2 separate regions of the Homo sapiens genome follow, and region 2 is linked to region 1. The links come from fine-mapping of genetic effects on gene expression. A gene starts in region 1. The other region holds a variant in brackets. All regions are shown on one strand. Distances are between the middles of the regions.

Region 1 (2,913 bases):
AAAAAGAAAAAAGAAAGAAAAGAAACAAGAAAATGAAAATGCTTCCTAGTATTTTGCCTGACTCTGTGTTTCACCGTGAACTCCCATGTTCTGTCCACAGAGGAGATGAGAATGTGTGACCTCTTTTTCTGTTGAGGGAACATTGAATAATTTCCAGTTTTTATCTATTACAAATGATGCTGCTATGAGCACTCTTGTATATGTTTTTTCAGGCTTATATGTATACATTTCTGTTTGACATTTACCCAGGAGTGAAAATGCTGAGCCATCAGGGATCCCTGTGTTTAGTTTTGGTAGATTCTGCCAAGCCATTTTCTAGTGACTGTACCAATTTATATTCCCACTAGTGGTGTACAAGAGTTCTAGTTTCTTCACATCCTCACCAATACTCAGTAGAGGATTGCATGGGGAGGGTCACGGGCTCCCCCAGACCCAGCTCAGTCTCAGCTGGTATCACTCCCTTATTCTTATGGAAGGTGTAGTGGTATCTTATTATGGTTTAAATTTGCATTTCCACGGTGATTTATGATGTCTAGCTCCTTTTGCTATGTTGATTTGACACGTGGATATCTGCTTCTGTGAAGTACCTATCCAATTATTTTTGCCCATTTTTCTAGTATGTTGTCTGTCCTTTTCTTACTGACTTGCAGAAATTCTTATATTTCTTCTGTGGGCCCTTTGTCAGCTACATGTATTTAAACTATCTCATCACACCACAGCTTGCCTGTTCCTTCTCTTAATGGTGTCTTTTAAGGAATAGTTCTCAAAATCATACTGACAGTCTTAAAAGCCTCAGATGCCGAAGCTCCATCTGTGTTCTACTCCAGACTCATCGATGTCTGATTCCCTCCTGAACTGAGGATCCTGTGAAGCATCCTCAGGGCTCCACTTCTCCATCGCATTGCAGCATCCACACACATTTACCTCTGGAGACAGGAGCTCCTTGGAAGCTGGGAGGTCACTCGGTGGTCAAGGGGTAGATGATCTTAGTTTTACAGTGCTGCGCTGTCTCCCAGGCTGAATGACGCTGAAGCCAAGCAAATTCGGGCAGTCTCTGGACCTTTCTAATGGAGGTGTCCCATAACCATGTTCCATCCTAGTTCCCTGGCATAGGCTTGTTGAAGCTGCAGAAAATGTCAGGGATTTATTAGTGATTTACCGACTCCTTCATACTTAGTGTTCAGGAAAATTTATTCATGTAATACTTCTTCAACCAAAGAGGAAATATCAATTAGAGCTTTGTAAGTTTCTTTTCCACTTCCTATTTTGGCTATCAAGCTATAGCACCACCCAGCTCAGGCCACCCACCCACCTTCGGTCCTGAGGCCTGGTTGCTCTCTGCCGGCTTCGCCCTGACCTGTTTCTGACCTGTGTTCCCTCCGCTGTGCCAGAACAGGCCCCATGCTGCTCTGGACGGCTGTGCTGCTCTTTGGTAAGTCAACGAGCATGGGCATCCCCTCTTGGAGCACTAAGGACCGTAAGTCATCCCTGAGACACCAAGTTCCTCATCTTACCTTTCCCAATTCCAGTGGGTTTGTGGCTGGAGCTCAAGACAGGTGTGTGCACCTGGGCATGCTTGGGAGAGATGGGCACTGGGGTAGGAGAAACTCCTCAGTGTTTCCTACCCCGTAGTCCTGGGTCCTTGGCAGCGCAGCCCTTTGATATGTCAGAGATAAATTAGGGAGGCAGAAAATCACATTACAAAGTCCCCTAACTTCCCAATGACATTTCTACCTTGTGACATCAGGTTAAAATACTAATCAGAGCTGTCTCAAAAGGAAATGGAGGTTGCAGGAGGGAAGGAGGCTGCTGGGGGCAACAGGGAAGGAGTCAGGGAAATGAGGGGAAACAGTCCCAGGCATTTTGCTCAGCAATGGGAGGTGGAATTTTACAGGGTGACATATTTTTATGGAGCCTCAGCATTTTCTTAGAACCAGGTAACAATGGCCAGACCTCTCACCTGGTTGAAAGGCCTGTGCTCTGAGTAACCAAAGCCCTTTTCAAATTGACTGTCTCTCTTCCGCCTACATCTTCTCTCTGTTGGGAGCTGTTTCAGATCCATGGGGCTGGTTTGAAGAATCAACTCCATTGTCTGATCCATGTCTCTCTCTCTCTTCTCTCCATTTCTTCTCATGCAGGCTACTTGTAACTAAGAGAGCTGGTCTAAGGGTAGAGGATTGCACGCAGAGGGTCACTGGGCTCCCCCAGACCCAGCTCAGTCTCAGCCAGTGTCACCCCCCTTATACCTAAAAGAAATAATTTGGCATATATTTTGTTTCACTTTACAGTTTCCAAGTGGACCTACTTTTTGTTTAATTCTTGGTCCCAATAGCTTGCTTGCTATTTGTATTCCTTGAACTAGAAAAGCAAAACTGTTCCTAAATATAACCTCTTCCTGGACAGAGTTTGTGAGAATTTGACCCTGTGAGGAAAATGCCCCTTCCACTCAATGTTCCTTCTCCAGCATAGCATGCTACTCGTGTGTTCTATGAATGGCCATTTGGACAAATGAAAAGGTCTAATGCTCACACTGAGGCGGGGACAGGATAGCCTAATGCCTGGATATACTCCAGGCAGAAGACTCCCAGGGGCAAATGGCACTACCGGCACTACCTTGTAAAAGGAACAGCCCTTGGACTTGTCTAGATACAGTCTGAGAGTGTTCCAGCTTGGAACCCAGGACGAGGATGACAGACAGCAAATGAGGAGAGGAAGGGAATCAGTGACCGGCTGACTGGTGCACAGTGTAATGGAGAATCCAGCACCAGCAAATTTGGTCCCACTTGATGCTCAGGGACCCTGGAAAAACAGCCTAAAACACAGACACTGGGGCTGGGTGTGTAGCAACATTTATCTTACCATAAGTGTAGAGCTGCTATTTCCTCTCTCAAGAGCAGGGTGTGGTCATAATAA
Region 2 (2,913 bases), 28 kb after region 1:
AGCGTCTCCCATACACGTCTGACTCAAATATAGTCCCCCAAAACAGCATCTTGCTTTCTCACCCCCTGTCTGTTTCTCCTCCTGTTCTGGATCACAGAGAATAACATCCAGTGGATCCCAAGGACCTGGGAGCCGTCCTCGACTCCTTTTTCTCCTTCACTCCCCAGAGCTAATCTATTACCAAATCCTACTGATTACACACCATCTTCGTGTTTCTCAATTCCTCCCACTTCTTCCCATCCCGGTTGCTCCCTTCCTCAATTCAAGTTGCCGTCACTTCTCCACTGGACTAACATGAACAGCCTAAGTCCTGCCCACCTCCAGTGCATTCTCCACATCCCTGCTGGAGTGATCTTTCTAACCATGCATCTAATCCTGTTACGCTCCTGCTTAAAACCTACCTGAGACGCCCCATTGCTCTACAGATAAAGCCCAAACTCCAGTATTGCTTTCAGGTCTCTGCATGATCTGACTCCTACCAACTCTGCAGTGTAATTTCCTACTCCTCACACAGAGAACTACTCTCAGTTCCCCTGGGCACCAACTCTCCCCCTCCAGGCCTTTGTCAGTACTGTGCCCTCTGCCGGTGACACTTCCCTATCCTGCTCCAGGCCGCCCTCGGCTTGGCCTGGCTGATTCCCATTCCTCTTCAAGGCTCAGCTTAACAATTTGTTTTCTGAGCCCATCAAGGCTGGGTGAGATCCCCTGTCACCCTACCTGTGTTCTCCCAGGGCATCTCATTTTTCCCTTCATGGTATTTAACAGAATTCATTTTTATTGATTTCTTGAATGTCTGGCTTCCTCTGTAAGTTCCATGAATGCAGAGACTGGGGTTATCTTCCATATGTTTTATCCCTGGTACCTAGCACAGTGCAACCTCAACTTGAGTGGAGGGAATGTCAGTGGAGGGGCCCCAATTCACCCTATAGCAGCTCAGATGCATGCAAAGAAGGATGAGGAGTGTGGGGCAGGCAGAGTGACCAGGGGCTCTGTTCTTTCAGCCCTACTTCCCATTACAGTTACTGGTGCCCAAGTGCTGAGCAAAGTCGGGGGCTCGGTGCTGCTGGTGGCAGCGCGTCCCCCTGGCTTCCAAGTCCGTGAGGCTATCTGGCGATCTCTCTGGCCTTCAGAAGAGCTCCTGGCCACGTTTTTCCGAGGCTCCCTGGAGACTCTGTACCATTCCCGCTTCCTGGGCCGAGCCCAGCTACACAGCAACCTCAGCCTGGAGCTCGGGCCGCTGGAGTCTGGAGACAGCGGCAACTTCTCCGTGTTGATGGTGGACACAAGGGGCCAGCCCTGGACCCAGACCCTCCAGCTCAAGGTGTACGGTGAGTGTGTCTGACACTGGCTGCCTGGCCCTCTTCCCCCACAAAGCACCAGACGAGCATCCTGAGTCATAGCAGCCAGGGAGAGCTGGGTTCCAGAAAGCTCTGGTCTCTGACCATGTTGC[C/T]GACTCAGGGAACAGCTGCTCCCTGGCAGTCACGTCTAAGAAAATTCCTCCTGGCTGCAGCAGCCAGGCTTTGCCATTTCACAGTGCTTGCCTGAACTCTAGCTCAGTCTTTTCTTGGCTCAGTGGCCTTGGACACAATGCTTAGCCTCCCTGGCCTTCACCTTTCTCCTTTGTAAATGGGCATTGTAATATTACCATGTAGAGTACCCACAGGATGAAATGCAGTGGCATTTGCAGTGGCATCCAGGACAGAGCCTGGCCTGTGCTTCCTCAGTTCTAAAGGATCATCATAGACTATAAGATGTGCCACTAGTCTATGTAGTCTATGTAGTCTGTGTAGACTATGTGTCATTAGTCTAAAGGAAAAAAAATGATGTACCATACTAAACTATGACATAATGGGTTTATTTAAAAATCAAATTATAATGAAACTGTAATTAAAAGTATAGAATTTACACATTTCTTAAAAGGGCTTCTTAGAGAGATCTTAACTATATATGATTCATGGGTTCTCTCAGTCATTCATCATTGCAAAACAAACCATCCCAAAACTTACTGACTGAAAACAACAACGATGTTTACTTCTCATAATTCCGTGGGTTGGCAGGCCCAGCTGGGTGCGACTTCTGCTTCGCATGGGTCTGCAGAGCCATTCGCGCAGCTACATTCAGCACCTCGGTTGGCTGCATGGACTGGGGGCTGCGTGGGCCTTGTTTCCCAACAACTCCACCTCCACCTCCACCACAGCCACCTCCACCACCTTCATCATTTGTCTTCTGGTCAAGAAAGAGTGGCTTTCAGCTCTCATTTATCTACCTAATGGGCTAGAAAAGAGGCATGGGTGACCCTAAATCACTGTTTCAGTAAAACCTTAGAAATTTAGATAGAGTGGAAGAGAGGGGAGTCCAGATTTAAGAATGGAAAGCAGAGGTAGCAGCTGGGAAGAGGGTAGCCATGAGGGAGATAAAGATTGTAAGCAAATTGGGGAGATGTCTTGAATCCCCCCGAGACAGCTAACTGGCTGTCCTTGGGCGAGCCACTCAGGGTGCCGATGCAATTGCAAGGTGCCTTTCTGGATGCACGCAGCCCTGAGCCTCATCTTGGCAAGCAGAGTGCTGGCTGGATTTCAGCACCCCCCACCCCCTGCCACCTGTTACCCTGTGACCCCCCTTAGCCCAATGTCCTTGTGTAGTGAATAACCTACCCCACCATACAGGCAGCCCTGGAGCCCCTCCTCTGATCTGAGTCTCAGCTGCCGCACATGTGAAATGAGGACATTGAATGTGATAATACATGCAGCACCCACACCACTAAGCTCTAAAATGCCTTGTTCTCAGCAGCTGAATTACAGATTTTAAGGAAATTGCTGTTTTATTGCTTCCAAATACATAGCGTGATTAGAACTAATTGCACGAAGCTGCCAAGCAGCCGTCCTTAGGAGTTCTGCTTTGACAATAGATAAG

Alleles and levels. Positions count from the first base shown, and alleles are read on the strand shown. Sizes are in standard deviations (SD) of each study's normalised expression.
For the expression in macrophages of the gene that starts at base 1,337 in region 1, allele T in region 2 goes with a higher level than allele C (large effect, 0.83 SD a copy in Nedelec 2016).

The links. PIP is the estimated chance that this variant, and not a neighbour inherited with it, causes the effect.
Region 2: its variant is fine-mapped to the expression of FCRL6 in macrophages (Nedelec 2016, PIP 0.95).

The regions. Positions count from the first base shown.
Region 1 is chr1:159,801,024-159,803,936 of GRCh38, forward strand. FCRL6 (Fc receptor like 6) reads left to right here and starts at 1,337. Exons shown (of 10, transcript NM_001004310.3): 1 at 1,337-1,432. The coding sequence starts at 1,402. LOC105371464 (a long non-coding RNA gene) reads right to left here. Exons shown (of 3, transcript XR_922195.2): 1 at 1,515-2,913; 2 at 925-1,124.
Region 2 is chr1:159,828,865-159,831,777 of GRCh38, forward strand. It overlaps SLAMF8 (SLAM family member 8), which reads left to right. Exons shown (of 5, transcript NM_020125.3): 2 at 1,002-1,328. Among named protein-coding and RNA genes, the nearest start is that of SLAMF8, 3.4 kb to the left of the region's middle. The variant C/T (reference allele first, on the strand shown) is at 1,451.